Homo sapiens: one gene and its partner. The protein of the gene in region 2 purifies or fractionates together with the protein of the main gene of each other region. This does not show direct contact. Each region holds a gene or a part of one and is shown on either strand. Other genes may lie near its edges.

Region 1 (3,823 bases), on a different chromosome or scaffold from region 2:
TTTAAGAACTTAAAAACTAGAAAACTAGGGGCTTTTTTCCTTTGTCCTTTCCAAACTGGCAGCGCATCTACTAGTCTGAATTTGATTTGTGAAACTTTTATAGTTTCCATGTAAATGACTGGATATAAGGTATAAAGGATAATTTACTTAAATCCTGAGATAATCTATTTGTACTAGATGTATTTCTTCCCCTGATTGAAAAGTCACATAATCATTGTTTAATGAATTTATAGGTTTTGGTGTTTATAAAACCAAAAAACTCTAATATTGCAACTTATTTATCCATTGGGAGTTGAAACATTGCTAAATTTAAAAAAGTCACCCCAAAATAAAATAATGTAATGGAAAGAAAGATCTTATTTATGGTAGGTCTGTAGAAATTATAATAATACACTCTTTTTTTCAGGACTGGATTCCTCCCTTTCTCTCCAGTCAAGAAAGCAGTCACTTTTTGCCCGACTAGAAAATATTATTGTCACAGATGTTGATCCAAAGACAGTTCATAAGAAAGTAGGTGATTGTAAACAGATAGTTAATATTCTTTAATGACTGAATATGAGCTTCTATTGTAAAATGTATTTTATTTTAAAAACATTAATGAAATATATTTCAATAGAAAAATTTTTTTATAAAGATTATAAATGTAAAGCCTTTTGTAAATGAGATTTTATTTTGTCATTACCTTCCCGGATAGAGTACATTCAAGTCTCTGTTTTTCAGGCTGTGTCAATAATGGGAAATGAAGTTTTCCGTTTTAATTTGGATTTGTATCCAGATGCTACTGAGGGGGATTTGTATACTGACATGTCCAAAGTGGATGGTGTGCTGTCTCTGAATGTTGGCTGTATTCAGATTGTCTATCTTCATAAATTCCTTATGTCACTTCTGGTAAAATAATTATTTGTATATTGATTTTTCAACTTTGAAATATTTTAAAAGTGTGATAATTATGATGGCAAATGTTATAAACCTTGGATTTTAGAGTGGGCATTATTTTAATTATATTTATGCGTGAATGTAGAGATCAAAACCCCTATTTAACAGTTGAAAAGTGAATCATTTAATGATTTTTGTCTAGAACAAATTATTTTTGCTACAATATAATGAAGCCAGATTCTTTAGTATAAAAATTATTGGAAAAAAATTTTTCTCTGTTCCTTAACCATATAACATTAGCTCAGTTCAGGCAGCTCATAGTTATAGATGGATTATCCGTAATTTCTTAATACTGCTAGAAAAATAGGGCTCAATGGAAAGTTAAATATTGGAAAAAAAAAGTTACCACATGTATGAAAAGAAGATAGTGTTATTATTGATGTGCCTGTATTCTCTTTGAATTTCTCTTTTTATGCTTTGTGTCCACAGAACTTCCTGAATAATTTCCAGACAGCCAAAGAGTCTCTGAGTGCTGCCACTGCCCAGGCTGCAGAAAGGGCTGCCACAAGTGTGAAAGATCTTGCCCAGAGGAGTTTTCGTGTTTCCATCAATATTGATTTGAAAGCACCGGTTATAGTCATCCCACAGTCTTCTATTTCCACCAATGCAGTAGTGGTAGATCTTGGGTTAATCAGAGTTCATAATCAGTTCAGTCTGGTGTCTGATGAAGACTACTTAAATCCTCCAGTAATTGATAGAATGGATGTGCAGCTAACAAAGCTTACACTTTATAGGTATGCTCTTTCAATAATTATGGATTTAAATATTATATTCATGATTTCCATGAAATTTTATGACTTGAAATTCCTACCCAACACAGTTTATTCAAATAAACTGTTCCATTACACGGAACAGTTTTTTTTATTGTTGTCATTGTTTTGTGTGTGTGTGTGTGTGTGTGTGTGTGTGTGTGTGTGTGTGTGTGTGTTTTGAGTTGGAGTCTTGGTCTGTCACCCAGGATGGAGTGCAGTGGCGTGATCTCGGCTCACTGCAACCTCTGCCTCCTGGGTTCAAGCAATCCTCCTGCCTCAGCCTCCCGAGTAGCTGGGACTATAGACATGTGCTACCATGCCTGGCTAATTTTTTTTGTATTTTTAATAGAAATGGGGTTTCACCATGTTGGCCAGGCTGGTCTCAAACTCCTCACCTCAGGTGATCCACCTGCTTTGGACCCCCAAAGTGCTGGGATTACAGGTGTGAGCCACCGCGCCTGGCCCAGAAGAGTTTTTTATTTTGTGTTTTGAGATGAAGTCTTGCTCTGTCGCCCAGGCTGGAGTGCAATGGTGCAGTCTTGGCTCACTGCAACTTCTGCATCCTGGATTCAAGTGATTCTCCTGCCTCAGCCTCCTGAGTAACTGGGACTATAGGCACGTGCCATCATGCCTGGCTAATTTTTTTGTATTTTTCGTTATAGAGATGGGGTTTCACCATGTTGGCCAGGCTAGTCTCAAACTCCTGATATCAGGTGTTCTGCCCATCTTGGCCTCCCAAAGTGCTGAGATTACAGGCATGAGCCATCGCACCAGGCCACCAGAACAGTTTTTTAATCAACTTTTGTTTTAAAAAATTTCAGACCTACAGAAAAATGGAAAAAAATAGTACTGTGAATGCACCTACATATCCTTCATCTAGATTCACCAGTTGTTTATATTTGCTTTAACCTATCTATAAACATATACATATTATTTAAAACATTTTTTGCTAAATCATTTGAGAATAGACATCTTTAACTTTTTGTCCCTAAATACTTTATCATATGTCTCCTATAAACAAGGACATTCATTCTCTTATATTAACTATGATATAATTCTAGAAATTTAATATCGATGTAATACTATAATCTGAAATTCAGTCAATATTCAGATTTTACCAGTTGTCCCATTATAATAATTCGCATTATAGGAATGTCCATTATAAAAATTTCTCCCTGATTCAGGATCACCCATAGCGTATAATTGTATTCTGTACTATTGAGGAAGATTTCTGTACTGACAGAAATTTATTTTGGAGTAGTTCTTCAGCTTTTCTTTGTCTTTTTATGACTACATGACTACTACTGTAGTTTTGAAGACTACAGTCCGGTTCCACTCACCTCTCAATTTGGTTGTGTCTGAGTGATTCCTCATGGTTTGATTGAACTTACACATTTTTGGCAGGCATGTTGTGTAAATTATTTTGTATCTTCAGTGCTCATACCAGGTGGCACATGAAATCTGTACATAATTCATTTTAAAATTATTTTCTACCCCATCCATGAAGATTTAATTATGTAGAATAAAAAATTAATGACTACAAGGCAAGTCTAGAAAATAATCCTAGAGAAAACCTTTATGAAATGCCTTGGAAAATGCTAACTCCTCTTGTTCACTTTGCCATCATTTTCTTCAGTCTCTGCACCAACATACCTATTAATCCTTGAACAACTGTATATGATGATTTTCTGTATTTCTTCAATGGTGTGGATTGCTTTTAAAAACTTATTCAATTTTTCACCTATCTACTGTTTAAAGAAAAAAGTTTTCTTAATGGTTCATTGTATATCACCTTTTAATTTGTCCCTTCTAGTGGATTATAGATTAATTATAGGTTCAGTTTTGAAAATACTCAAGCCACACTGTTTCAGATCAGTATTTAGAGCAGCAAATAACTGCTTGACTTTGCTTTTTTTTAATATGTTGCATTTCTACCCTATATCTATGCATTATGTAACATTTCTGTTTTTCGTAGGACAGTGATCCAGCCAGGCATCTACCATCCTGATATTCAGCTGTTGCACCCAATTAACTTGGAATTTCTTGTAAATCGGAATCTAGCTGCATCTTGGTACCACAAGGTGCCTGTTGTGGAAATTAAAGGACATCTTGATTCAATGAATGTAAGTATATGA
Region 2 (3,823 bases):
TCAAGTCCCTGGCATCTGGGTGTTGGAAAGCGGAGGTTTGCTCTGGGAGAAGGAGGAGGAAACAACAATATTTGCATTCTACTTGTGTTTCTCTTTAGGAACACAATCTTGGCTGAGATTCTATTGCCTCTAGCACACCGAGCCCTCAAACAACATTCAACGCATATTTATTGAGCACCTACTATGTGCCAAGCACTTTGATCCAAGATGATGGACTCACATGGCTTCTAGGTGTGGAGGTGGTGGTCTGGGGGTGGGGAAATTAAAGGAAGAAGGGACAGCAATGTGAAAGGAAAGCAGTGGCTATAGTCCTTGGAGTTTTGCAGACTTCACAGCTGACCTACCAGCTTCTTTCCATGGGGGTGGGGTGGGAGCTGGTCAGGGCTCACAGCACAATGGAACGAGCTGTGAGCACTGGAATGAATCAACATCCTCAGGCTGAGTTCCAGCTCTGTCTCTTAGCATCATAACCACTGGCAATCCATTCATTTTCCTGGCCATCAGCTTTCCCATATGTAAAATAGGTAGGCATGTTCCCATAGGTAAAATAGGGAGAATCAAATGAGATGATGTTTGTGAAGGGATCCAGCAAAGTGGTGCCTGAAGGTGCTCAATAATAAACTCATTAAAAAACAAAACAAAACAAAAAAGCGTTCTCTTCTTCCCATTCTCATGAGGACAAACTACACACTGGCCCAAAGCGTGGGCTCTGAGATCAGACACCTGGGTTCCAGTCCCAGCTCTGCAGTTTACAAGCTGTGTGACCTTAGGCAGCAGACATTACCTTTCTAAGGCTCAGCTTCTTCATCTGTGAAAAGGTGATAACAGAATCCACCCATAGGGTGGTTGTGAGAATTAACCCAAATACTGCACGTGATGCTCCTAGTACATGGCAAACACCCTGCAAAGGTGAGCTGCTGCTAATTACATCTCTCTGAGCCTTTAAAAACAACAAAACTCCAAGTGCGCAGGCTGGAAACTAAGATTCAGGCTACTTGGTTAGTGACTGGCTGCCTAGGCACCATTCACCCTTTGCTCCTTGTCCCAAGACTTCCAGAGGAAAAACATACAAACGAGGAGTCATCCCTGTCCCTTCAGTCTCCCTCCCCACACCTTGCAGAAGGTGTTCCAGCCCCTTTCCTGCCAGGTTCCTCTCTTTTTTTTTTTTTTTTTTTTTTTTTTGAGACGGAGTCTTGCTCTGTCGTTAGGCTTGAGTGCAGTGGTGCAATCTTGGCTCACTGCAACCTCCGCCTCCCAGGTTCAAGCGATTCTCCTGCCTCAGCCTCCTGAGTAGCTGGGATTACAGGCACGTGCCACCATGCCCGGCTAATTTTTTTTGTATTTTTAGTAGAGACGGGGTTTCACCATGTTGATCAGGCTGGTCTCAAACTCCTGACCTCGTGATCTGCCCGGCTCAGCCTCCCAAAGTGCTGGGATTACAGGCATGAGCCACCGTGCCCAGGCCAATTTTTTTTTTTTTTTAATAGAGACGAGGTCTCACTATGTGGCCCGGGTTTTTCTTGAACTCCTGGCCTCAAGCAATCCTCCTGCCTTGGTCTCCCAAAGTGCTGGGATTATAGGTGTAGGCCACCATGCCCAGCCTCTATGCACAATTCTAACACACTCAGATGTCTGTTTTCCCAGAGATTTGGAGGGACTGCTCTTTGAGCCCAGCATAAATGATCACTACATGATAAACCACTTCACACTCATTAGGATGGCTATTATAAAACCAATCCAAACCTAATCAACAAAAAGCAGAAAATAACAACTGTTGGTGAAGATGTAGAGAAACAGGAACTCTTGCACCCTGTTGGTGAGAATATAAAATGGTGCAGCTGCTGAGGAAAGTGTTATGGGGGGTTATTCAAAAAAGTAAAAATAGAATTACCTTTTGATCCAGAAATTCCACCTCTGGGTATATACACAAAATAACTGAAAGCAGAGACTCAGAGAGCATTCACCTTTTGCTCCTGGTTTGCACACCCATGTTCACAGCAGTATTATTTACAATAGCCAAAAGGTGGAAGCAACCCAGGGGTCCATCAATGGAGGAATGAATAAGCAAAATGTGGTATATACATACAATGGAATATTACTCAGCCTTAAAAAGGAAGGACATTCTGACACATGCTACACCATGGAACCTTGACAACATTATGCTAAGTGAAACAAGCCAGCCACAAAAGGAGAAATACTACATGATTCCACTCATATGAGGTATCCAGAGTAGTCAAACTCATAAAAGAGAAAGCAGAATATCAGTTGCCAGTGGTTGGGGGGATGAAGAAATGGATAGTGCTTAATGGGTAAAAGAGTTTCAGTTGGGGAAAATGAAAAAGTTCTGGAGATGGGTACTGGGATGGTTGTACAACAATAAATACAAAGAATGTACTCATGCTACAAAACTATAGACTGAAAAATTTGCTGTTACATACAAGTAAATTTTATGTCATATCTAGGTAACCACTTAAAAAAAAAGAAAAAGGAAAGAAAAAAAAGAGAAGTGACTACTGTCTACCAGGCAGAAGACACAGCAATGATTGTAGGTGGAAACATGAACCCCCAAAGCCCAACAGCTGGGAACCACGTAGTTTGGGGCCCACTGCCCTAGAGTCTCACAAGCCCCGTGGCCTCACACTACTATAAGCACAGTAACTGACCGGGTAGGACTGGCTCTTCCCACTCAGAGCCTTGAACAGGATTTAAGAGCCTTCCTGCAGTGCCAGTGTTGCTACTTGGAACCTTGAGGCAGGGCACTCCCGGAGTGGGCTCTCCCCCAGCAATTTCCCTCTGCCCACCACTAGGTCCCTCCCCCACCCCAGGTCTCTTCTTTGGGAGGTAACACTTTTGAGAGAAAGAACCTTTTGTGGTCCCACTCTCACCAAGCAGGCGCTCTGTACACACCGGTATGAACTCAACAACCCCTAGTCCCAAACCAGAGGTTCTTTCTGAGCTGTATATTAATATTTTGCTCAGAAGCATATCATTCGTTTCAGAAAGATTCCCATCCAAAAATAGTTTTTAAACATTTCTTTTATAGTTTTGCTCCTTAAAAAAGAGTAAGCTTCAATGATCTAGTGGGAAAAATCACTGGCTATGGCTTTTGTGTGTAAAAATCCTGGTAGCTTGGAATAATAGAAACTTTCTAAGATCACAAAATCTCTTTTCATCCAGGGTCTCACTTTAATCTTACAACCTCTCTGAAAGGTGATCAGGGTGGCAGTCACCTCATGGCACAAATGGGGAAACTGAGGCTCAAAGAGATCAAGAGGCTTGTCCAAAGTCACACAAACAACTAGGAAGGAGCAGAGACCCCAGGCTTCATTTTCCACCAATGCCAGATGAAACTCTGTGTTGGGACCTCATATCTGAGCACACTGTGTAGCCATGAAAGTAATTTTTAAACCACCATTAGCTTATTTTATCTCCATAACATCTCTGTGAAGGAAACTGGAAATATTATCTTTTTAAAACGGGGGATCAACTGAGGAAGAAACAAATGACCTGCCCAAGATTACCACTCAAGAAAGTGGCAGAGACTAGACCTCCTCTCCTTTGAATACACTTGACCTCAACCACTTCCCTATAATATCTTGACCTCCACACACTCACAACTTAAAGGAGCACATGCAGTTTTTATGTAGGTTGCACCATGTTTCTGTGAACTAGGCAGGGGACAGACATACCTTTGTTCTCTTTCTAATGGCTGGGTAAGAAAAAAGAGGTTATAGAAATCTTTAGGTTCCTTTTCAGCTCTAAAATTCTATGATTCTAAAAATTCTCCAGCAAGTTGATGGGTAAGAGATGCCTGGAATCCACA

The links.
Region 1: the proteins of UBTD1 (region 2) and VPS13C purify together in Homo sapiens (affinity purification with mass spectrometry; one large-scale study listed by BioGRID and IntAct). This does not show direct contact.

Annotation. Positions count from the first base shown.
Region 1 is NC_000015.10:61,959,436-61,963,258, reverse strand, and holds part of VPS13C (intermembrane lipid transfer protein VPS13C), read left to right. Parts: intron 1-406; coding exon 407-510; intron 511-720; coding exon 721-888; intron 889-1,365; coding exon 1,366-1,670; intron 1,671-3,663; coding exon 3,664-3,811; intron 3,812-3,823. UniProt on the Homo sapiens protein: Mediates the transfer of lipids between membranes at organelle contact sites. Necessary for proper mitochondrial function and maintenance of mitochondrial transmembrane potential.
Region 2 is NC_000010.11:97,505,134-97,508,956, reverse strand, and holds part of UBTD1 (ubiquitin domain-containing protein 1), read right to left. Parts: intron 1-3,823. UniProt on the Homo sapiens protein: May be involved in the regulation of cellular senescence through a positive feedback loop with TP53. Is a TP53 downstream target gene that increases the stability of TP53 protein by promoting the ubiquitination and degradation of MDM2.